7 linked regions of the Homo sapiens genome follow. The protein of the gene in region 1 interacts with the protein of each later gene in a biochemical or structural test. Each region holds a gene or a part of one and is shown in the gene's direction. Other genes may lie near its edges.

Region 1 (3,500 bases):
AACATATACCAAACAGAATAAATAAATTCATGCACAGTCATGTTATAGTAAAACTGCAAAACACCAAAAGAGAAGATCTTAAAGGACCAAAGAAAAGATACACCACCTACAAAAAAACCACAATCAATAAGAAAGATAGATTTCTCACTGCTATATTAGAAGCTGGAAGAAGAGGGCATACTATCTTCAATGTGATAACCTGGAATGATCAACCTGGAATTTTATGTCCAGAGAAACTATCTTTCAAGGATGATGGTGAAATACAAAGACATTTCAGATAAGCAAAATAGAAACTGCCTCCAACAGACTTTCACTTAAGGAAATTCTACTTTAGGAAGAAGAAAAATGGTGCCAGAAAGGAAGTCTGAGATACAGGAAGGAACGGTGAGCAAAGAAATTCGTAAGCACCTGTGTAAATCTAAACAAGTGCTACCTGTATAAAATAATAATGATGATGATGATATCTAATTTATGAGGCTAAAAAAAAATACTGGACAACTAAAAGAGTGGTTAAAATATTAATATTTAAAATTTAGGTTTTATGTTAATTTTAAATTAATGTATCATGCATGTTAAAATTTCAAGGATAACTTCTAAAAGTACATAACTTCCAAGCCAATAAAGAGGAAAATTGAATTAAAAAATTTTTTAAATAGTTATTATAGCTAGGTGCAGTGTCTCATGCCTGTAGTCTGAGCTACTTGGGAGGCTGAGGCAGGACAATTGTTTGAGCCCTGGAGTTCAAGTCTACAGTGAGCTATGATGGCCCCACTGCATTTCAGCCTGGATAATGGAGCAAGACCCCGCCTGTCTCTTAAAAAAAAAAAGTAACCCCAAAATATGCACAACTATGATCTATCAGTAAAACACCACCAAAAAAACAACCACTTAAAAATTTCTCTATTTAGCTTCGTGACCTCTGTTATGCTGTATAACCTCTGTAAGCCTTAGTTTTCTCATCTTTAATGTGTGGGTAGTAGTAGTACTTCCTTTATAGGGTTGTTGTGAAGATATAATCAGATAATGCATGTAAAAAGCTTAGCACAAATCTAGTACATAATAAGTATTAGCACATATCTAGTATATAATAAGTATTCAATAGACATTAGTAATTAAACGTTACTGCTGTTAGACAATACCAGTGGCTCTCTTATACGTATATTCCCTATACAAAGGGAAGGGGAGCTAACATTTTAAGTGCCTGCTATATGCCAGGCACTATACTAAATGCTTTCTTATATATTGTATCTCATGTAACCCTCATAACAATCTTATGAAAATATATATTGGTGTCTGCATTTTATAGATGAGGACAATGTACTTCAGAAAGTTTAAGTAACATAACCAAGGCACTTAATGACAGTGGGTTTCTATTATACCTCCCATCAAAAGAACTTCAAATTGGCTGGGCACGGTGGCTCACTCCTGTATTCCCAGCACTTTGGGAGACTGAGGCTGGTGGATGACGAGGTCAGGAGTTTGAGACCAGCTTGACCAACATAGTGAAATCCCGTCTCTACTAAAAATACAAAAATTAGCTGGGTGTGGCAGTGCACACCTGTAATCCCAGCTACTCAGGAGGCTGAGGCAGGAGAATCGCTTGAACCTGGGAGGCGGAGGTTGCAGTGAGCCAAGATCACGTCACTGCACTCCAGCCTGGGCGACAGAGCAAGCCTCCATCTCAAAAAAAAGAAAAAAGAACTTCAAATTAATACATATCTAGGAGGATTAAAAGCTCAAATGCTTTTTACTTTTTTCTGACTTATTTTACCCCACTCTGAAATTTTGTGTCATGGAAACAGACTTCAAAAAAGCCAAAATTCTCCTCAAAAATTAAAATTTTGCATGTCAAACCAGGTGCAGTCACTCATGTCTGTAATCCCAACACTTTCGGAGGCCAAGGTGGGAGGATAGCTTGAGGCCAGGAGTTCGAGACCAGCGTAGGCAACATAGCAAGACCTTGTCTCTACAAAAAAATTTTTTTTAAAAACAGCCAGGCATGGTGGCACATACCTGTAGTCCCAGCTACTCAGGAGGCTGAGGTGGAAGGATTGCTTGAGCCCAGGAGGTCAAGGCTGCAGTGAGCCATGATCATGCCACTGCATTTCAGCCTGGGGGAAAAAGCGAGACCCTGTCTCAAAAAAAAAAATTGCACATCATTTATTGACTAACAGCAAACCATGGAAATTCACTAAAGATCTTGAAGTCAGACAGAAAATCATATTTGGGGGTGTTTAAGAGGATTAAAGAAACATCCTCTTACTCTATACTTTGAGTTCATGTAGTATGATGTGAAACGAATCACAACAAAGCGGCCTGTTCTTAGGGTGCCTGCTGGAAGTCAGTATTCCTCTCAAAACATTCTTTCTCTTCTCTTTTCTCCTTTCCTAGGGGTACACATCTTTCTGGAATGACTGCATATCATCAGGCCTGCGAGGGGGCATCCTGATAGAGCTGGCCATGCGGGGTCGAATCTATCTGGAACCCCCGACCATGCGTAAGAAGCGACTACTAGACAGAAAGGTACTGAATCCTCTGTGAACGTCCATGGCTTATGGAAAGGCAAATACCAACAGTACATTTGGGAAGAATAGAAAGATTTGAGTAGTAAGATAAAATAAATATCACTGACTCAGCAGTTCCATTGTCTAAACAGGTTAATTACCCTATTGCAAGAGGGAGAAATCAAAGTATCCATAGTCCAAAGAGTTATAGGAAGCTCCTGGTTTTGTCTTCCTTTTTTATGCAGAAAAATCATACTCAGGATGCTGTTGATTAAATTCCTCCTATATCTATAGCTATAACATTATGAAATAGCCGGGCACAGTGGCTCACGCTTGTAATCCCAGCACTTTGAGAGGCCGAGGCGGGCGGATCATGAGGTCAGGCGATTGAGACCATCCTGGCTAACACGGTGAAATCCCATCTCTACGAGAAATATTTAAAAAAAAAATTAGCGGGGCATTGTGGCGGGCGCCTGTAGTCACAGCTACTCGGGAGGCTGAAGCAGGAGAATGGCGTGAACCCGGAAGGTGGAGCTTGCAGTGAGCCAAGATCCCGCCACTGCACTCCAGCCTGGGGGACAGTGCAAGACTCCGTCTCTAAAAAAAAAAAATTACGAAATAGAGTATGATGTAGGGAGAGGGACTCATATGGGTCAGGTCAGTCATTGATTAACCCTGGTTATTCTCCAATAATATTCTGTTTCCTTCCATTTACTGCAAGTCCTTTCCAACCATACTCCTGTATCCATTTTCTTACTGAATTTTTCCACTCACAACTTCTTTATCATCCTAAGCACTCCACTTAAACTACATTCTTAGGTATCACCAGCTTCTTTTCAGTCTTTGATTTATTTTTCTCTTTTAACCTATATGTGTCATTTGACACTTTTTATCACTTTGAAACTTTCTTCATTATTGGCCTTTGTTATTATCTTATTCTCTTGCTTCTCTGACTATACACTGTTTCCTTACTTCTCCATTTCTTAACATCCAAGT
Region 2 (3,500 bases), on another chromosome or scaffold:
ATACAAAACAGCACTCAACATTTCTTATCCATCTTTGGTAGCATGTGTTGGCATTTCTGCAGAGTAGATTCCTAGAAGTAGGATCGTTATGTCAAAGGGGATGCACTTATAAAATTTTTATAGATACTGCCCCAACACCCCAACATTTCCTCCAAAGATTGCACCAATTTATATTAAAGTGCCTAGTTGTTGAACTGTGACACTCCCTCGAAGTAAATTAAATTCAGATGTTAAATATAGAGATTAATTATGGAGAAAGGGAGCTCTATTACCAAGTCTTTCCACCTAAGCATTATTTTTCTGTTTATTAATGACTTTTTAATTACCCTTTGGTAGAATTTTGTAGTATGTGTGTATATTCTGCATATTTCTGAAATTTATTTCTAGATATTTGAGTTGCTTATTTTTTTCCCTTTTGACTGGGATCTTTTACTCCCTTAGTTCATTGGTGATCATGTACATGAAAGCAGTCATTATAATATAGATAATATAGATACAGATATGGATATGTAATGCATATATATAGTACATGTGTATATATACTTGCTATGTATATTATATATTATTTTTACATATTAATTCTGGTACCAACCATGTTTTGAGTCTATTGCCATTTCTAATGGTTTTTCAGTTGATTTTCCTGGGCTCCAAATTTATGTAGGCAGTAGTGCATATTGGTTGAGAATGTGGGTTCTGGACACAGTCTGCCTGGGTTCAAGTTTTGCCACCCTGCTTAAAAACTTAGTTTTCTAAAGTATAAAATGGGCTTAATAGTCATACTTCTTGGAGGCTTTTTATGAGGATCGATAGATGAGATGCTTAGAACAGTGCCTGGCACATAAGTGTTCTGGAAACATTTACAAATAAGTCGATCTCTACACAGTATATGACCAGCTCTTTGATACTACCAATTTTATAGCTGAGGACCTGAGACCCATAGAGGTCAAAAGAAGCCAATTATTTGCTTAACAAGCATTGAGCATCTTCTATGCATAGTTCTGTGCTGGGTCTGTGAGGGATACCAAAGATAAATCAGACTGAATCTACTAAAAAAGGATTCAAGAGTCCAATCAGATCGTAAGTCAAGGACCATAAACAAGGCCATGGAAGACAACAGGCATCATAGAAAAACATGAGCTTTGAAATTTATCCTTGTCCTTGAATTTCCTCTTGCAACTTGGTAGCATCAGTTTTGTCAACTAAATGGGATTAATTCCATTGCTATTTTGAGAGTTGCTATTTTGTTCAGAAGAAATAGATGCAAGGGTCTAGCACAACATTGGGATATGTAGTATGGCCTTAATAAGCGGTAGCTATAAATAGATGAGTCTGAAGTAGAAAGTGACAAATGAATGCCCTGGAGGAAAAGTTCATAGAAAGGGCCCCAGTACTTGAGGGGAAAAAAAGAGATTCTTTCTGGTTGGAAAGGTCAGGGTTGGGTTTTGGAAGAGGTACCTTTTGAGCTAATTCTTGATGGTTGAGTTAGACAGTGTGAGGAGCAAAAATGCAGCTGGGAAGATAGTTGGAACTGGATTGTGAAGAATCTTGGCAAATAATTTGGACTTTATTCTACAGTCATGGGGGAATCATTGAATAGTTTTACAGAAAAGAGTGCCATGTTCTGACTTATGCTTCAGAGTATCAGATGGATGCTGATCAAGTAAAACATCACCATCATTTGCACAGTGTCCTATGCCTGACAAAGGGCTATCATAGCTGTTGTCTCTTCATCGTCACAGTCTCACTGTGTTGCCAGGCTGGAGTGCAGTGGCATAATCTGGCTCACTGCAACCTCCGACTACCTGGTTCAAGCGATTCTCCTGCCTCAGCCTCCTGAGTAGCTGGGATTACAGGCACGTGCCACCACACCCAGCTAATTATTGTATTTTTAGTAGAGATGGCGTTTCACCATGTTTGCCAGGATGGTCTCGATCTCCTGACCTCGTGATCCGCCTGCCTCGGCGTCCCAAAGTGGTGGGATTACCGGTGTGAGCCACCGCGCCTGGTTGAAGTATCTTTTATTTTCCTGTTTCACAGAGAAATAAAATAGGCTCAGAGAGATAAATGATTTTTTTATACAAATTGATCAAATTAGTGAGTGTTGGGACGAGAATTGGACCTAGATCTTTTGGCTTGTGTTGCTCATTCTGGAGGTCAGAAGCTCTGTTAGGAGCCTGTTGCAATCAGCTGGCTTGGAGGTGCTGAGGAGGAACTAGAGTGTGGCAGGGAGGAAAGCTTGACAAGGGGAAGGCGAGGGGAAAAGAGAGGCATAATAAAAGAGGCCGTAGAGGTGGGATTAGGAAGTGACTGCGTGGAGGTGAGAAGTTAGAACTAACTAGTGTTTTAGACTGAGTTGCCTGGGAAAGTGGTCGTGCCATTCATATAGTGGATTTGGGAAACACAGAACATTCTTGAGCACTCATCCCCTGACTCACACCCTGGTATTGTGTCTTCCACACCCGTGGATCCTTTAGTTTAATTTTCAGAAGTTGCACTAAAATATAACTATTGTTGTAGCTCCATTTATTCATCTAAGCCCTAGTTCATGTTCATTTCTCAGAGTCTGTGTCCTTTACTGTCTTCCCTGAGCCCTACACTCTAGATATGGTAACAGGTAGAGAATTCTGTTTAGGGAAGGGTTGTGTTTCAAAGAGCACATGCAAAGCATAGATAAGAACTGGATATGTATTGTTCTGTAGAATCGGAGCTGTAATGGTGTAACTGTTATTAGGTCAGCTCATAGGTGCCAGTCAGTCCACAGTGTCTCTGGAGTGTGGGCCTCAGCCTGTGACATCATGGGCAACTGGAATTCTGGAAAAAGACAATCAGAGTGGTAACATAGACATAGCCCTCTTGTCTCACCCTTATGATTGGGCTGGGAGTAAAAAAACTCCTTCCCCAAACTAGCAGTGAAAAATCCTATGTTTTTATATCTGTTCCCCTAAGGCCATTTATCTTTTATCTTTTTTTGTTTGTGTGTTTGTTTGTTTTTGTTTGAGACAGGGTTTTTCTCTGTCAACCAGGCTGGAGTGCGGTGGTGCGATCACAGCTCACTGCGGCCTCGACCTGCTGGGGCTCAGGCAATCCTCCTGCCTCAGCCTACTGAGTAGCTAGGACTACAGGAACATGCTACCATGCCTGGCTAATTTTTGTATCTTTTGTTGAGACTAGGTTTTGCCATGTTGCCCAGGCTGGTCTCAATCTCCTGGGCTCAAGCCATCCACCTGCCTCAGCCTCCTAAAGTGCTGGGATTACAGGCTTCAGGCACCACATCCAGCTGGCCATTCTTCTTAAAACCAGATCAGTAAGGTGAAATAAATTATAGGTGCCATTGGACACCACAGGCTACTGTGCAACAATTGGTTAAATCTTTTAAAAAAATGTTTTAAAAAGTAAACAAGAACATACTCCTGAATGACTACATAACTCCATGTGGTTGGATTTTCAGCAAAGCAGTCATCTAATCTTGAATGAAGGATCTGATCCCAGCTCCTGTGTCC
Region 3 (3,500 bases), on another chromosome or scaffold:
GGAGAATCACTTGAACCCAGGAGGCGGAGGTTGCAGTGAGCCGAGATCGTGCCATTGCACTCCAGCCTAGGCAATAAGAGGAAAACTCTGTCTCCAAAAAAAAAAAAAAAAAAAAAAAAAAATTCGCTGTGCGTGGTGGCACACGCCTGTAGTCCCAGCTACTTGGGAGGCTGAGGTGGGAGGATCGCTTGAGCCTCAGAGGTTGAGGCTGCAGTGAGCGTGATCACTGTTGCCTGGGCAACAGAGCGAGGCCCTATCTCAGAAAAACAAAAAAAGAAATGTAGGCGGGATTGGCATAGCAGGTAAGATAGAGTAATTCGAGCTCAGTGGAGACTTCTTGGGCCTGGCTGGGGTTTTGAGGCCTTGGGACTAGAAAAGGGGCAGGGCCTGGATGCAGTCAGAGGAGGATGTCCAGCACGGGGAACCCCAGCCCTGCTGCCGGGAAGGCCCCGGTGATCAGCCCTGTGACCACCTCAGGGGGTCCTGAGAGGCCTGCCCCTTAAAGGGAGCATGGAGTCTTCCCTGCGGGCCTGGAGGAACTGCTGGCAGCCCCCCTGTGCTGTTAGGAGGATCACTCTGAGCAGCAGGTTCCACGTATGTGCCTTGTTCACTCCTTGAACCTCACCCTGGGGCTAAAACCTAGGACTGTCCGAAAGTTCCATGTGGAATTGTCACCCTGTTTTTGTATCTTCTCAGCCCAGCAGGCTGCGGCGTGGAGAAGGGGGTGTCTCTGGTGGGGGTGTCTGTTGCTGGCTGCCGTGCACCAGGGCCTCGTGGTCCACATATTTGGGGCCCAGAATTGCACGGAGCCACTGGAGTCCCCAAGCCCTTCCCAGGCGCCCTGGCAGGGAGGACAGCGTCTGCCCATAAAGGCACATGTTTGCTGCTTTGTTGTTTTCTCAAGGAGGACCCAGCCAGGGAAGCTTCTCAGGCCGGGATTCACTGAGCTATAGTTGGAGGGCAGAGATATGGAACCTCTGCCCAGGGCCAGTGTTCTCGATCGAAGCACCGGGAGCTGTCTCCCCACGCCCCACTGTGGCACTTGGCGGCTGTCCAGAGACAGGCAGCTCTCACCAAGGCGGCGCAGACGTGGGCCTGGTGCCCCATGGCTGCACTGAGCCATCATGCTGTATGCCCGGGAAGTGGGCTTGGCGACAGCAGTGAAGGGCTGCAGTTCCTGGCCGCCACCAGCACCCTGACCCTGGGGCTCTGCCACAGAGCCACGCCTGGGGTGGAGGGTGAGCTGGGAGAGGCCTGCGGCCGAGCCAGGCCCCGCAGTGAGCCGAGCAGTTCTTTGGCGCCAAGGCACAGACACGCTGGCCTCCAGGCAGTCAGGGCAGCGCAGACTCTGGTCCCTGCAGTCATTTGCATTAATAGAAAGGCGCCAGGGGACAGACACTGCCAAAAACAACAACAGATACGAAAAAGAAGGAGTGTTTTTATTTGGTTTGGATGTGTTTGGTATTCCAATGCTGCAGGAGCCTAACCCAGAGGAAGTGGAGACTCCTTTACTGCACATCTGTCTGCTCCAGGCCAGGCACTGTTCTAGGAGCCAGGATACAGAGGTGGAGACAGAAACAAACAAACCGATAACTGTATACAATACTCTAACGTCAGGTGGGGACAAGGGCCAAGGACCCAGGGACGGAGGGTGATGTCTGCAGCAGGGCAGTCAGGGAGGGCTTCCTGGATGAGGTGGCATTTGAGTAAAATACAGACCTGTACCCTGTCTATGATCCTATCCCACTTCACCCCGTCAGCCTTCCCCTCCCACCTGACTCTCCTGCGCTTCTCTCTTTAGAGGGACCACAGAGCACCAGCCTGCATGGAACTTCCTTCCTCACTCAGCTTCCCACGTTGCCAGCTGGGACAGGGGAGATGGAGTAATTTTGCTGTGGAAAGACTTCACGTCTTGCCGAATGAAAGTAAGCAAAGATACTGCTAGAGTCGGGAATCTAGAGTCGGGAATTCATTAAGCCAAGGGAGTAAGAATGGCCACAGAGTAGTGAAATACTGTTTCTTCTGGAAAAGTCAGCCTCCAGCGCCTGCAGCTTCCGGAACTAAGATGTGACTGGGCTTGCGGAGGCGCTGACTCCTCTCCTCCCTCCCTGGCTGTGCAGGTCCCGCCTGTCTGTCACGCTGATGCCCGTGCAGCTGTCTGAGCACCCGGAATGGAATGAGTCTATGCACTCCCTCCGGATCAGTGTGGGGGGCCTTCCTGTGCTGGCGTCCATGACCAAGGCCGCGGACCCCCGCTTCCGCCCCCGCTGGAAGGTGATCCTGACGTTCTTTGTGGGTGCTGCCATCCTCTGGCTGCTCTGCTCCCACCGCCCGGCCCCCGGCAGGCCCCCCACCCACAATGCACACAACTGGAGGCTCGGCCAGGCGCCCGCCAACTGGTACAATGACACCTACCCCCTGTCTCCCCCACAAAGGACACCGGCTGGGATTCGGTATCGAATCGCAGTTATCGCAGACCTGGACACAGAGTCAAGGGCCCAAGAGGAAAACACCTGGTTCAGTTACCTGAAAAAGGGCTACCTGACCCTGTCAGACAGTGGGGACAAGGTGGCCGTGGAATGGGACAAAGACCATGGGGTCCTGGAGTCCCACCTGGCGGAGAAGGGGAGAGGCATGGAGCTATCCGACCTGATTGTTTTCAATGGGAAACTCTACTCCGTGGATGACCGGACGGGGGTCGTCTACCAGATCGAAGGCAGCAAAGCCGTGCCCTGGGTGATTCTGTCCGACGGCGACGGCACCGTGGAGAAAGGTAACTGGACCCTGAGGTTTTATGGAGGTGTGGGTGGGGAGTGGGAGCTCAGGGCCTGGCTGGCAAACACAGGCACATGGTAAAGAATTCACACACCTAGAAGCCAGGGATGTGGTGAGGGAGCACGTCTCCCTCTTGCTCTGACCTGCGGCCCCCTTACCCTTAGCCAGGAGCATAGCCTACTGTCACTTCACACTGAGCAGTTTCTAGGAGGAAGAGCTTATCGCTAGAGGCCTGTGGGAGACGTGGGGAATCTCTCCAAGATGTTTTCGGCTGTATCCGCTGCTGCTCTCGGAGCCTCTGGGAACACGCCCTTTTTACACCTTCAAAGGTTCTCAAGACCACGCTAGGATGTGCCTACCAGGAGCCTTGCCCTGAAAGCCATGGGGACAGATGGTTCTCACTCAAAACCCAGACTTTGGTTTCATGTTACTGAAGGGTAAACTGCTGCCCAGCCCTCCTCTCCCTGAACCCCAGCAGGGGGAGGGCATGTGTGAGCTGTGCCAACCCCCCTGGAGTGGAGCCTGATGCCAGCCTTTTTGTTCACCAGAAAGGAGGTGCTGCTTCCACAGGGCAGGGACAGGCTTTGGGGAGGCACGGTGGCCAGTGTCTTCCTCCAGAGAGGAGCTGGGGAGGTGCCAAGGACGCTGGCAGAGGAGCTGCCAGCTCCTCTGAGCTCCGTTTGTCTGAGCTGGCGGTGGATCCCCACCTTCTAGAAAGCTAAATG
Region 4 (3,500 bases), on another chromosome or scaffold:
CAGCAGAACAGCAAAATGTGACCCAGGTGGCACATTCTCCACAAGGTTACAACACAGCAAGGGAGAAGCCAACCCGAGAGGTGCAGGAGGTAAGGGGCGTGAACTGGTAATCTATGGTTAGGTCACTTTCTCTGTCAAGTTGCCAAGAGGGGACCTGCTTTTAATATTGCCAACTTTTCTGGGAGAGCAGTAGTTCTCAAATTTTAGTATATCAGAATTGCCAGTAGGGCGTGATAAAACACAGATTACTGGGTCCCAGGCCCAGAGTTTCTGATTTAGTTAATTTGGAGTGAGGCCTAAAGATTTGCATTTCTAACTGATTTAGCTGGTCTGAGTAGCAAACTTTGAGAACTGCTGCTAGTATTTTCTTTCTTTTTTTCTCTGAGACAGTGTCATGCTACGTCGTCCAGGCTGGAGTGCAGTGGCACAATCTTAGCTCACTGCAACCTCCGCTTCCCGGGTTCAAGCAATTCTCCCTGCCTCAGCCTCCCGAGTAGCTGGGATTATAGGCGCCCGCCACCACGCCTGGCTAATTTTTGTATTTTCAGTAGAGACAGGGTTTCGCTATGTTGGCCAGGCTGGTCTTGAACTCCTGACCTCAGGTGATCCGCCCGCCTTGGCTTCCCAAAGTGCTGGGATTATAGGCGTGAGCCACCACACCTGGCCGCTGCTAGTATGTCTGAGAAAGGCTTTAATGGCTTTGTCTTTATTCATGTAGGTTTATTTGTCTTCAAGGAGTTGTAGTATCTGAGTTTTTCAAGGTTGGGGATTTTGCGGGGGTTAGGGTGAGAACGTTAAATGATCATGAGGATTTTATGTGACAGTCAACCCACTCAAATATTAAAGTTAATAATATATTTTAACTTGGAGCAGTGCTAGGTCTACACAGAGCATGTCAAAATTTGAATTAAATGACCTGTTTGACACTCCTACGGGTATGAGTGCTAGTCAAATAATACACCTTTTTATATTCTTGTTCTTTATAAAAATTAAGCCTTAAGAATATCTCATAAGTGAGACATCAGAAGTAGTTACCATTACCACTAATTTCTACAAAGGTTGTTTTTTTTTTTTCCAATCATCTGTAATAAAAAAATAGGCAATATGGTTATCTTTCTGACAAAGTGGTTGTTTTAAACTTTTAAGTTCAGGGGTACATGAGCAAGTTTGTTACGTAGGTAAACTGTGTCATGGGAGTTTGTTGTAAAGATTATCTTATCACCCAGCTATTTAGCCTAGTACCCATTAGCTATATTCCTGCTCCTCTCCCTCCACCTTCTGATAGGCCGTACAGTGTGTTGTTCCCCTCTATGTGCTTATGTGTCTCATCATTTAGCTCCCACTTATAAGTGAGAACATGTAGTATTTGACTTTCTGTTCCTGTGTTGGTTTGCTACAGATGATGGCCCCCAGCTCCATCCATGCCCCTGCAAAGGACATGATCTTGTTCTTTTTTTATGACTGCATAGTATTCCATGGTGTTTATGTATCACATTTTTCTTTATCAAAGTCTATAATTGGTGGGCATTTAGGTTGATTCCATGTCTTTGCTATTGTGAATAGTGTTGCAGTGAATGTGTCTTTATAATGGAATGATTTCTATTCCTCTGGGCATATACCCAGTAATGGGATTTTGCTGAGTCAAATGGTATTTATATCTTTAGGTCTTGGAGCAGTCTCCACACTGTCTTTCATGATGGTTGAACTAATCTGCACTCCCACCAACAGTGTATAACCATTCCTTTTTCTTCACAACCTCGCCAGAATCTGTTATTTTTGACTTTTTAATAATAGCTCTTCTGACTGGTGTGAGATAATATCTCATTGTGGTTTTGATTTGCATTTCTCTAATGATCAGTGATGCTGAGTTGTTTTTTTTTTTTTTTTGTATGATTGTTGGCCACATATATGTTTGTGTTAGTCCGTTTTCATGCTGCTCATAAAGACATACCCTAGACTGGTTGATTTAAAAAAGAAAGAAGTTTAATTGGACTTACAATTCCACATGGCTGGGGAAGCCTCACAATCATGGTGGAAGGCCAGGAGGAGCAAGTCCCATCTTCCATGGATGGCAGCAGGCAGAGAGAGAGAGCTTGTGCAGGGTAACTCCTCTTTTTAAAACGATCAGATCTTGTGAAACTTGTTCACTATTGTGAGAGCAGCACGGGAAAGACTTGACCCCATGATTGAGTTACCTCTAACCGGGTTCTTCCCACAACACGTGGGAATTCAAGATGAGATTTTGGTGGGGACACAGCCAAACCATATCAGTGTCTTCTTTTGATGTGTGTGTTCATGTCCTTTGCTCACAAAGTGGTTTTTAACATTAAAGAGAAGACTGAGAAAACTTTCCTCCAAGTTATGGGAATAATTAAGTTGATATGAGTAGACTTCATATATGAGCCTCTTCACTCTGTTCAGGGTATTCCTTCAACAGACAGGTTCAGTATCTTCATGGACTCTTATTCTTTCTCAGGCTCTTATGTTAATAACTAAAGAGAGCATGACCAGATCACTGGCCTGGCAGTTGGTTCTATTTTCTGCCCTTGTCAGACTGCCAGTTTACTGGATTAATCTTCCAGTGACTCAGATCTTCAGTTTTTCCATCTCTGAGGTGGAGATAGGAGTTATCTGCACTAACCTTCCTCACTAGGATATTGTGAAGATAAATGACAAGTGTTTGAAAGTACTTAGAGCTCTTTAGAGAAATATTTTTCTGTAAAGCCAGGGCAGTATTATGTCAAACTTGCCAGATATGTGAGGATGTCGGTGGAATGTGCAACTCCAGTTGTCCTCAAATGTCTGAGAAAGGACTTTTCTCCCCAGTTTATTAATACAGTCCAATTTCTCAGATTTGATAATTATATCTCTGCTAATTTAAGAATAGGATTTCACATTTATTTCAATTTTGGGAGAGCAGTCTAACCAAAGAAGATTTTTTTTTCTGAAGGTTAAAGAGAAAAAAAGAGTGACGTTTGTTTCTGTTGATATACTATATTCTCTTTCTTCCTCACTTTCTAGGTAGTGCAGATCATATAGAGATCGCTGAAACTTATAGGGAGAACTGATTTGAGTCAACTAATTTTAGAGGAGGGTTATTCTGAAAAAGCCATTTCTTCTTTTTCTGCTCAGGGTTTTCAATATTAGCAATAAAAAATGTTTACAAAAGAGTCCTGCTGGTTTACAAATAATTACTACTTTAATACATTAAAAATATTTTATTGTATCTTGTTTAACAGGCACTGTGTTGAACTAACATGGATGTTCATTAGTAATGGCATTCTTTTTTTTTTTTTTTTTTTTTTTTTTTTTTTTTTTGAGACGGAGTCTTGCTCTGTCGCCCAGGCTGGAGTGCAGTGGCGCAATCTCGGCTCACTGCAAGCTCCGCCTCCCGGGTTCACGCCATTCTCCTGCCTCAGCCTCCCGCGTAGCTGGGACTACAGGCGCCCGCCACCACGCCCGGCTAATTTTTTGTGTTTTTTTAGTAGAGACGGGGTTTC
Region 5 (3,500 bases), on another chromosome or scaffold:
AAGATAGAAACAGGTTAGTATGTTCACAACTAGGGCTAGAAAAAAAAAACAGATGAGTAACCAGTCATCATCCTTTTTCTGGAAAAATCAGGCTCCCCTTCCCAGTTCAAAGGACACATGCCCTGGTAACCTTTGAAGTTTCCCTACCTATGTACAATAAGCCCTTCATAACAGTCAGAGAAGATGGTGGCCCCAACTCTGGTGGACCCCAGAACTCTGAGAGATTCCAGGAATTAGGCAAATCAGGATTAGGTCAGGAAGCAAGGATTGCCTCTCCATGAAACCTACACAAATCTCCATGCCATGGAAAAGTAATTAGTAAGTAGATGAGCTCATTTATGAAGTCACCTCTCACGGTGCCTGATGCATATTAAGCACGTAATTGATGCCTGCTGTTACTATAACGATTATGTATTTCTGTTGCTGCCACACTAAAATGAATAACAACATACTTTCCCACCTAAAACCCAAAAGAAGAAACCAGTGGGAGGGATGTCTTCAGCCAGCCCACCAGCATAGAAAAGGGTCACCTGCCAGTCACCCCAACTCCCAGCGGCCCAATCCTAGGCTCCTCCATGAGCCTCTGACCTCTGTTCACCTTCCTAGGCAGCCAGTGTGCTAAGGGCCCAAGTGACTACCACTAGCCACCTAGCAGCCAACTATCCTTGCTATTAATTAACAGACTGATGCTCTGGTTTTTATCACCTGAGGGAGCTGATAAACTCACATTTCCAGGTCAAAAAGCCAAGTGATCAGAGCTCAGAGTAGGTATACAGGCACAGGTAACAAAAATTAACCAGCAGGCTTTTCCCTAAAGTGGGCCCTGGTAAACACAGGACCCTGCAGTCTCCCTGTGCTTAAGTCAGAGTGAACCAACATCAGAAAGCCTGGGATCGTGTAGTCATGGCCTAGGAAGAAGCCTGGTCGGTATCCTTTTTCCCAGGGAGAGAGAGCAGCATTTGCCCAAGTCCTTGGACCTGGGGTCTGGTGCTCTGGGAATAGAATAGAGCTGCTTATGGGGAGACTGTCTCACCTAGCCCACTGAAGGCCTCATCCTGTCTCCTCTTACATCAGGTGTGGCAGTGTGGGGGCCAGCTGGAGATCATCCCCTGCTCTGTCGTAGGCCATGTGTTCCGGACCAAGAGCCCCCACACCTTCCCCAAGGGCACTAGTGTCATTGCTCGCAATCAAGTGCGCCTGGCAGAGGTCTGGATGGACAGCTACAAGAAGATTTTCTATAGGAGAAATCTGCAGGCAGCAAAGATGGCCCAAGAGGTGAGAGGAAATGGTTCTCGGAGAGGTTTAGATGAAGAGAAGTACGGCCCCCAGACCCTGTTCATGGGCCTAATGGCTGGGACCCACCTCATCTCTACCATCTGGCGCCTCCCTTCACCCTCAGGGACCTGTGAGCTAGAGCCCAGGAGAAGGCCACAAGGCACATAGGTTTCAAAAGCTAGAGAATGTTGTCCCTACGCATAGAGTCTCTGCATCCCTTTGGAGGGGAAGGGAGGGAAAGGAGATTTGGAGGAAAAGCCTCTTACGGAGGCTTTGGAGGCTTTGGAGGAATGGCTCTGAGAGCCTCGGCACTGGGGAGTGGGACATAATTGTCTGGGGAGTCACAGGAGATGGACCGATAAGCAGGGGACTCCAAAGCTAAGGCGGGGTTTTTGGGATTGGATGTGAGGGCTGGGCCAGTATCTTTAACAGGTCCTGAGTGGGAATGAACATGAGAGACAGTAGCCCCAGGCGCTCCATGCTATCTGCACTACTTCAGCCCAGACAGGAAGGTCAAAGACTGGTGGAACTGGCTGGGTGTGGTGGCTCACGCCTGTAATCCCAGCACTTAGGGAGGCCGAGGCGGGCAGATCACCTAAGGTGAGGGGTTTGAGACCAGCCTGGCCAACATGGTGAAACCTCATCTCTACTAAAAATACAAAAATTAATTGGGCGTGGTGGTGCGCGACTGTAGTCCCAGCTACTCAGGAGGCTGAGGCAGGTGAATCGCTTGAACCCAGGAGGGGAAGGTTGCAGTGAGCCGAGATTGCACCACTGCACTCCAGCCTGGGCAACAGAGTGAGACTCCCTCTTAAAAAAAAAAAAAAAAACTGGTGGAACTGATCCTTAGGGGGCTGGCTTGATTGACAGAAATCCTTCGGTGACATTTCGGAACGACTGCAGCTGAGGGAACAACTGCACTGTCACAACTTTTCCTGGTACCTGCACAATGTCTACCCAGAGATGTTTGTTCCTGACCTGACGCCCACCTTCTATGGTGCCGTAAGTCTTGAGAACCAACCTGCCTGCCCATCACCACAGCACCCCTTGGAGAAGTTCAAGACCACTGACCCCACAGATGGATGACAAACAAGAATTGAGTTTTGCCCTGCACCCTCCTTTATCCAGGAGGAGGACTGAGAGGCCACGTTGGGGCTTCTAGAGATAGCAAAAAACCTTATAAAGGGCAAAACAACCCACAAGCAGTGGTCCTGAAACATTAGCATGCATCAGAATCACCAGGAAGGCACGGTAAAACGCTAGGGCCCATCCCCAGAGTTCCTGATTCAGAAGGACTCAGGGGAGGTCTGAAAACTTGCATTTCTCACGAGTCTCCAGGTGATGCTGATGGTCCAGGGCTCACATTTGAGAACCACTGCTTATAAGGAAACTCCCACGTGCTGAGGGCTTCTTCCAGGGACCTGGCATCCTGGGAGGTTCCCTGCCTGCCCCACAGAGGGGTTCAGTCCTGCCCTTTCCAGCCTCTGGGGCTCTGCAGCTCACTTTGCTGTTAGCTCCAGGCATGTGGGTTAACGCACAGAGGAGAGAAATGACGGGGGAAATCCAGCCATGCAAATTTGTTGCAGTTGACTGGAATTTGTTCCAGTGGGGCCCCATACCACACATGAGGAACCTCCTGACTGTGCCATCCTGCTTCCCCTCTCTGCTCACCCTTCTGCAGATCAAGAACCTCGGCACCAACCAATGCCTGGATGTGGGTGAGAACAACCGCGGGGGGAAGCCCCTCATCATGTACTCCTGCCACGGCCTTGGCGGCAACCAGGTATGCAGCCCACCCATCTCCGGAGCATCTCCTCTCCTCACCGGCTCCTTTTCTCTACCCTAAAGAGTCCTTTCCTGAGGACTGGGAGGGAGGAGATACCATCCCTGCCCTCAGGAAGCTTCCAGTCGGAGGAGAAGGCATAACACACACAAGGTCTGAATAAGGGACATCCGGAGAGAACGAGGCATCGGTGCTGGGTGTGAGAAGGGGATGGGAGGGAGGGTTGTTCATCAGAGGAGGCTTGAGGAGGCTAGCTGCTGGGGGATATTTAGGGGTGAGGGTGGAAAATTTTCCAGCACATCCCATCACCTGCACTCAACTTCTATCTTCAATGCATCCTCTGCCCAGAAGCTACCACTCTGATCCTACCACCTTCCAGTGACCCCAAAACTAGGTGCCCAGCACTAGTAAGTGAGAGGCACTGAAAACAGAGCCAGAGTGG
Region 6 (3,500 bases), about 28 Mb from region 1:
CTTAAGTGTATTTGGCTCCTTTCTGTCCTTTAGGAAACAATACTTGTTTTTATGGGAAGTGCTATTACTGCCGAGAAACAGAACCAGCTTGTGCTGATGGAGACATAATGGAGGGATCTGTCACACTTTGGCTTCCAGATGTGTGGCCTCTGCAGAAGCACCGTCACCCATGGGGCAGGACTTACCGAGAAGGCAAATTGGCCAGGTAAATGCTCCTATGAGCCATTACTTAATTCTCCCCTGTGCCTAGCCAGGTGCCAACTCTGTAAAGGAGCCAGCAGTTCTGTCCAAGAGTGAAAAGAACTGTGGAGTCAGGGGCAAACCGGTAGGTAGGAACTCTGTCTTCTCTTTGTGTGTAACAGTGCCAGGTACAGTGTTGTCACTCAGTGCTGTGATGCTGCTTGTCTCCAGGTGGGAGTATGATGAGAGCTACTGTGATGCTGTGAAGAAAACGTCCCCTTATGACTCTGGCCCGCGCCTCTTGGACATCATTGACACAGCTGTCTTTGATTACCTGATTGGCAATGCTGACCGCCATCACTATGAGAGCTTTCAAGATGATGAAGGCGCTAGTATGCTCATCCTTCTTGATAATGCCAAAAGGTGAGACCAGCAGGACTGTCCTTGTCAGGGAGGGGTTTCTGTATATGAAAGAAGGGCATTTTCCAGAGCATCCTGGAGAATATCCAGAATGCAATTGATAGGCAACATCCTTCTTTTTTCCACTTGGAGTCTTTGCTATTGGTACCTGTCCTTCTCTCCACTCTCAGGGATCTCAGTACTTCAAAAAATGGAAAAGTGGTTCTTCCAAGGAGTCTAAGACTCTATGAGCCTCTTCTCAGACAACTGGAAAACCAGGGTTATTCATTTGTTACTACCTACATCGTTCTTTCTTGGCTATGATATTTGGTGTTTAGAAGCTTGAGAAATACAGATGTAATAGAGTGTGGAATTTGTCGTTAAATTTATTCTATCCAAAGGTTCCTGCAATTAAAAAATTAATTTATTTGGTAGGATGTTTTGCTATTTTTGTGTTTGTCTAGGTCCATACTTTTGCTGTCATGGGAAGAAGAGCTGTTGCCTAGTGTGGATTTTATATATAACAACAAGTTACTTTTATCTTGAATAAAAAATGTTTATTCATTTTGAATAAATAGAATGTCCTTATTTTTTTAGGCCTGAGCTATTTGGAGAGCACATTGTATTTCCATTTCATATTCTGCATTCTCTGTGGTGGCCGGTTTAGTGCCACACTTTTTTTTTTTAAGTTTTTTTGAGACGGAGTTTTGCTCTGTTGCCCAGGCTGGAGTGCAGTGGCACAATCTCAGCTCACTGCAACTTCTGTCTCCTGGGTTCAAGCGATTCTCCACCCTCAGCCTCCTGAGTAGCTGGGACTACAGGCACTCGCTAATTTTGTATTTTTAGTAGAGACAGGGTTTCGCCATTTTGGCCAGGCTGGTCTTGAACTCCTGACCTCAAGTGCTCTGCTTGCCTCGACCTCTCAAAGTGCTGGGATTACAGGTGTAGTGCCACACTTTTAGTTGCATTTAATAAATATTTACTAAATAGAACGCTTCCTTGGAGTACAGAATTTTCCAGGCCCTAGGTCACTACTGTTAACATTGGTTGTTGGAAATAAGCTAAGACATGGCTCCTCAGCAAAGAGTGCTTGGGCAGCATTTGCTAATGATGCCACCATCTTATACTGAACACCAGGCGCCTCATGCTTTGTGAAAGATGGTGATGGCCACAGAAAATGAAAAACCAGCAAACACTGCCTCTCCCTCTACCCCATTACAGCAAAGCACATAGCACTCATCCTGTGATACACATGATACTTGATATTTGGTGTATATCAAAATAGTTGCTTTGTCCACTCGGGCCGCTATAACAAAATCCCTTAGACTGGGTAATTCATAAGCATCAGAAATGTATTGCTTACAGTTTTGGAGGCTGGGAACTCTAAGATGAAGGTGCCAGCAGATTCAGTGTCTGGTGAGGGCCTGTTTCTCAGATGGTGCCTTCTATGTGTCCTCATATGGCAGAAGAGGTAAACACGCTCCCTCTGGCCTCATTTATAAGGGCACTAATCCCGTTCATGTGGGCTCTTCCCTCGTAACTTAATCATCTCCCAAAGGCCCTACTTCTTAATACTGTTGGACTGTTGTACCAGGGATTACGAATTTGAGGGGGACACAAACATTCAGACCATAGCAGTTGCCTTTGCCTTGAATTACTGGAGGACCTACACTGTACTAAGGGCTACCAGACTCTAGCTATTAAGGTGAGCCTCTGGAAAGATTGAAAGGTTGACAGTTTTCCAGAATCAGTTCTCCTTTTCTAACTCTGAATTGCTGCTAAGGTAATTTTTGCATCTGCTGTGAATCAGTTTCCTCAGCCTGTGTGAACAGTTTTTCCAATTTGAATCTGTACTTATACTTACTTGTAGGGAATAGGATATTGCTAATTTGGGAGTAGAATAAGTGTGACTTCTTTTTACAAGTAATGGTCATCTGCTTGTTTGTGGGAATCTAATATAAATGGCTTTTATTTCTCTCTGGTCCTTAAAACCTTTGCAGGCTTAGGGGTCTTCAAGTTCTCCCTTTGGTCTGTGAACTCCGCACTGTGTTTACCATAGTTATGCTCCAGCACCTTGTGATATCTTGGCAGGAAAATGTCCCTTGTAAATGAGTATATTTGTTGTCAGATATTTTAGTACAGGCTGTTAGGGATCCTGTGTCTAATTGGTCATGCCCCGCTTGTTTTCAATTTAAGTGATTTGAGCTGCTGGAGCGTGAAATTATCTAGGATCACATTTGAGTTTCATATAGAATTTGCTATTGCTTTGATGCTAAGAAGAGAACAGTACTTCCACCTAATTCACTAAGTTTTAATTTAATTTTCAGCTTTGGGAACCCCTCGCTGGATGAAAGAAGCATTCTTGCCCCTCTCTATCAGTGTTGCATGTAAGTTATGCACAGCAAATACATGTGCCTGCATTGCCTTCTTTTCCAGGCTCAGGTAACAGTACATCCATTTTCTTGGCCCTCAAACTTTCTGATACCTGAGCAGTGCTTTTCATACTTTTCCAACCTAGAACCTCTGGACATCCTGAAATGGGATATCAGGGAAAGGTGAAGGCAGATAACCCAAAGCTCAGAATTCATCTCAAATTTTGTATGAATAGAAGATTGTATGTATACAGTAATACATGTTTGGTTTAATAGCAGAATATAATCACCCACACTCCCCACCCCACTGCCAAAAAAAAAAAAAGGAGTAAAATCTGTATGCCTGGTTACTACACCTGGTTACCTTGTGGTTTTAACTCCTCTCACTCACCCATCACATACCACCTGGGGTTTACATATTTCAGTTTGAAATTGTCTAAACCAAAAGTAACTTTTTCCATAAATAATAATTTATTTTGGCCAGGCACAGTGGCTCACTCCTGTAATCCCAGCAATTTGGGAGGCCAAGGTGGGTGGATCACCTGAGGT
Region 7 (3,500 bases), on another chromosome or scaffold:
GGTTTACTTTATTAAGCAGTAAACATAAGCAGTATTTTAGTCTAAATTTTGTCATATTCCTGTCTGTATCTGTTAATTAAAATGGGCTATATATTCCAGATATTAAAAATAATTCTTGGTTTGCCTCAAGAGAAGGGAATTGCTAAAACTCAGATTTATTTAGGGAATAAGATATTAATTTTGAATTCGTTTTTAAGTAGAAATAGTTCAGAACCCATGATTTGGGGAAGGGCATAACTATTCAGATTTGATTTGTTTCTGAAAATGTTTTTCTAGGTTCAGTTTTGTTATATGTGTGTCTTTGGTTTTTGTTACTTGTTTTGGTCATAGCTTTTGCTTAAGTCTTGTTTTCCTAGAGAAACTTGAGGTGTATGTAAGTTTCGATTTATATTTTTATAATTAGTTAATAGAACTAATCTTTTTTTTCCTCAAGAGGCACAAAGAACAAGGAAGTTAAAAACCAAGGATGCGTTCTAAAGACTTCATTTTCTCCTAGCCTCCTACCTCTAACCAGATTTTCTCAGTTGAGTTATTTATGTGTCCCTTAAGTGTTGGTTCTCTCCAAGTTTCTGTCCTTTAGCTGTTTGTCTGTGTGACATCATTAACCCGCATAATTTTAATTTCCTTCTATTTCTTACTGTCTTTAGCCCAGTTCCAGACATTGTGAGGTGACATTAACACAATGCAAAATACGGTTTGACAGAAAATAATATAAGTAGCTTGAAAACAATTGGAATTCTGGGATGCAGAGGGTCCACTATTCAGTTTTTTCTCTTCTCTTCTCAGTAGTAAATTATTTCTTCACCACCTCTCAAGCAGAGGTTGAATGGTGAGATTTCAAAGCCTGGTTCCATTTTATCAACTAGCAAACATAAACATACTATTACAAAGTATGTCGTGTTTTGTGATTGTTTATGTAACAGTAATTCAGCTCTGAGCAAGTGCTCTGTGTTCCTACAGAACAGTTTGGTCACTGTGTATTTGCTCTGTAGCATAGCCACATGTCTTTAGGTGATCAATTGGAGGCAGAGTTCCCTACTAATAGTAAGCCGTACGAGGCCTCACTGCAGGCATGTGTATTAGATACATACTTGTCCAGCTCAGTGGCCTACAAAATGTGGGGTATGCTAAAAGTTTGTCTACTCCCTTCAGACTCAGCATGTGTAAATTGAGTCTCCTTTTCCTTCCTACTCCTAGAAGTTGCTCTTCCTCCTCTATTCTTTCTTTTATATGGCTCATTACCATCTGTCTGTGCCAGAAATTAAGAAATCATGGTAGGTGCTTGCCTTCACATGCTAGCCAATTCGATTTGTCAGTACATTCTAACAGTGCTGCTACTTTACCATTTTTCATCTCTTTTCCTCTCAGTCCTCAGTGCATTTCCGATTCAGGCCTTCAGCTATACCCATGTACCTGCACTCAACCAAACTTCACCATTCCTTTTGGTGAACTTATAACCTATTTTCTGTATTATGTCTTTATTTTTTAATCTTCCTCTTTGTTCTACCTAGGTCCCTATCTACTGCTCTGTAGGATTTATTAGCCACTATTTTCCTTCAGCACATTGAATCCTTTGTTCATACCTCTATAATAACATCTCTTAGTATTTAGCAATTATTGGTTTGTGTGTCAGGCTCAGGCTCCCTGAATGGACTGAATTCCTCTGCAGCAGGAAATGTGTCTTACTCATTTTTTTCATCTCCTATGCCAGCCCATGCCCAGTACAAAGCAATTAGTGAATGAAAAATTATTTATCAAGTTCAGCGGTGGACAAACCTGTCTTACCTGAATGAAACAGATTGGGGATTCCTGCATTCACTGTTCTATCCATTCAAGGTTTGGTATATTTGTATAGCCAAGAGATTGGGCTCCTCAAGGATATGAGATGTCTATGCTTTCTGACTGAAAGTAGGGTGATTTTGTCTGCTGTTGTCCTTTTGGATTGTGAATCTTGATACTCAGAGGGACATGAGAATTTTTATTTTTTATTTTTTTTGAGATGGAGTCTCGCTCTGTCACCCAGGCTGGACTGCAGTGGTGGGATCTCGGCTCACTGCAACCTCCGCCTCCCGGGTTCAAGCAATTCTCCTGCCTTAGCCTCCCGAGTAGCTGGGATTACAGGCGCCCACCACTACGCTTGGCTAATTTTTTGTATCTTTTTTAGTAGAGACAGGGTTTCACCATGTTGGCCAGGCTGGTCTCGAACTCCTGACCTCGTGATCTACCCGCCTCAGCCTCCCAAAGTGCTGGGATTACAGGCCTGAGCCACTGTGCCCAGCTGGGACATGAGAATATTTTTATGTTCCACCCAGCTTTTCCCATTATTCCCTCTCAGTTGGTTAACTAGTATATTATATGCCTCCATTGTTAATTTCTCATAGGACTAAGCTTCTGTAACTTGCTGTTTGACCTTAATTTTAAGCATATGCTTCGTCAGGATACTGCCCAGAACATTGCTACTGAAAGTCAGTTCATAGACTCATTCTGGTCCTATAACTAAAGAATGTCTGCTTATTTGGGAGTAAGCAGAAACTTTTATTGTAATTGGAGTAATTTTGTCTGAAGCTAAAAATAAAAATTTAGGACTTGTTTTATATTTTAGTTTTATTTTTCTTATAATTCATTTTTATCCTATTTACACAGTGTAGACCTCTTTTAGAAATAAAAATTGGCCTTTCACCACAGATAGCTTGGGAAGTACTCATCTAGAATCTCATCATTGAGCTCTTCCTCTGTACCGGTGCTACTCAAAATGCGGTCCTGGCCTGACACTTTGTCAGCTGTTTGTCTGCACAAGATAATGAGGTTACACTAGGATGTAAATCAGTTTTACGCTCACTGCTTACTTAAATGGACAGTTTTAAGTTTCAGTTTTAAGCTCACTGCTTAGTTAAGTGGACATTTTGATTGGTTGGTTCTGATAGTAGGCCTTTTTCAAAGTAATGTGTTGCTTTCTGTTCTGGTATAAGCTCCTTATTTCTTTGCAAACCTGTAGTTTAAAGAGCACTGCTCTAGACCATCTTGGAATTCCCATGTCTACCATTGTTCTCTTCTGTTTTTGATTGGTGGATTTACATTTTGGAATGAGGTATGTGACTATCAGAAAGTAATCTCAACTCCTGTGCTTTGACCTTTTACCACCTCAGGGTACTTGTAGAAATTCTTAATAGTGGATTATTGTGAACTTCAAAAATGAACTGCCACTTCAGCAGCATGTCTTTCCTGCTCTTCAGAAACTCGTTCAGAGCAGTGAGAAATTTCTGTCAGTAATCTATTAAAAACTGGCTGCTTTCTTTTATGAAGTGCCAAGCAGAGACTATTTAAGGCAGCATTTAGCATGCCTATGAAGCACCAGGAGAACTTATTAAAATGCTGATTCTGAGTCAGTAGGTCTGGGCCTAAGATTATGCATTTCTAACAGGCTCCCAGGTGATGCTGCTGCTTTTAATCAGTAAACTACAGTTTGAGACGAATTTAGATTATAATGTCAACTCTTACTA

What was found.
Region 2: the proteins of GOLPH3L (region 1) and PGAP4 form a complex in vitro, tested with the Homo sapiens proteins (one study listed by BioGRID).
Region 3: the proteins of GOLPH3L (region 1) and CANT1 form a complex in vitro, tested with the Homo sapiens proteins (one study listed by BioGRID).
Region 4: the proteins of GOLPH3L (region 1) and GOLIM4 form a complex in vitro, tested with the Homo sapiens proteins (one study listed by BioGRID).
Region 5: the proteins of GOLPH3L (region 1) and GALNT6 form a complex in vitro, tested with the Homo sapiens proteins (one study listed by BioGRID).
Region 6: the proteins of GOLPH3L (region 1) and FAM20B form a complex in vitro, tested with the Homo sapiens proteins (one study listed by BioGRID).
Region 7: the proteins of GOLPH3L (region 1) and C1GALT1 form a complex in vitro, tested with the Homo sapiens proteins (one study listed by BioGRID).

The regions. Positions count from the first base shown.
Region 1 is NC_000001.11:150,662,655-150,666,154, reverse strand, and holds part of GOLPH3L (Golgi phosphoprotein 3-like), read left to right. Parts: intron 1-2,391; coding exon 2,392-2,523; intron 2,524-3,500. UniProt on the Homo sapiens protein: Phosphatidylinositol-4-phosphate-binding protein that may antagonize the action of GOLPH3 which is required for the process of vesicle budding at the Golgi and anterograde transport to the plasma membrane.
Region 2 is NC_000009.12:101,480,674-101,484,173, reverse strand, and holds part of PGAP4 (GPI-N-acetylgalactosamine transferase PGAP4), read left to right. Parts: intron 1-2,667; exon of another isoform or gene 2,668-2,811; intron 2,812-3,448; exon of another isoform or gene 3,449-3,500. UniProt on the Homo sapiens protein: Golgi-resident glycosylphosphatidylinositol (GPI)-N-acetylgalactosamine transferase that catalyzes the N-acetyl-beta-D-galactosamine transfer from an UDP-N-acetyl-alpha-D-galactosamine to the 4-OH-position of the first mannose of the glycosylphosphatidylinositol (GPI) of a GPI-anchored protein (GPI-AP).
Region 3 is NC_000017.11:78,996,265-78,999,764, reverse strand, and holds part of CANT1 (soluble calcium-activated nucleotidase 1), read left to right. Parts: intron 1-1,478; exon of another isoform or gene 1,479-1,617; intron 1,618-1,801; 5' UTR 1,802-1,925; exon of another isoform or gene 1,926-2,120; 5' UTR 2,121-2,142; coding exon 2,143-2,773; intron 2,774-3,500.
Region 4 is NC_000003.12:168,033,425-168,036,924, reverse strand, and holds part of GOLIM4 (Golgi integral membrane protein 4), read left to right. Parts: coding exon 1-89; intron 90-3,500. UniProt on the Homo sapiens protein: Plays a role in endosome to Golgi protein trafficking; mediates protein transport along the late endosome-bypass pathway from the early endosome to the Golgi.
Region 5 is NC_000012.12:51,356,907-51,360,406, reverse strand, and holds part of GALNT6 (polypeptide N-acetylgalactosaminyltransferase 6), read left to right. Parts: intron 1-1,074; coding exon 1,075-1,275; intron 1,276-2,145; coding exon 2,146-2,277; intron 2,278-2,956; coding exon 2,957-3,058; intron 3,059-3,500. UniProt on the Homo sapiens protein: Catalyzes the initial reaction in O-linked oligosaccharide biosynthesis, the transfer of an N-acetyl-D-galactosamine residue to a serine or threonine residue on the protein receptor. May participate in synthesis of oncofetal fibronectin.
Region 6 is NC_000001.11:179,063,894-179,067,393, forward strand, and holds part of FAM20B (glycosaminoglycan xylosylkinase), read left to right. Parts: intron 1-33; coding exon 34-205; intron 206-411; coding exon 412-603; intron 604-2,906; coding exon 2,907-2,966; intron 2,967-3,500. UniProt on the Homo sapiens protein: Responsible for the 2-O-phosphorylation of xylose in the glycosaminoglycan-protein linkage region of proteoglycans thereby regulating the amount of mature GAG chains.
Region 7 is NC_000007.14:7,234,544-7,238,043, forward strand, and holds part of C1GALT1 (glycoprotein-N-acetylgalactosamine 3-beta-galactosyltransferase 1), read left to right. Parts: intron 1-18; exon of another isoform or gene 19-1,836; intron 1,837-1,842; exon of another isoform or gene 1,843-3,088; intron 3,089-3,500. UniProt on the Homo sapiens protein: Glycosyltransferase that generates the core 1 O-glycan Gal-beta1-3GalNAc-alpha1-Ser/Thr (T antigen), which is a precursor for many extended O-glycans in glycoproteins.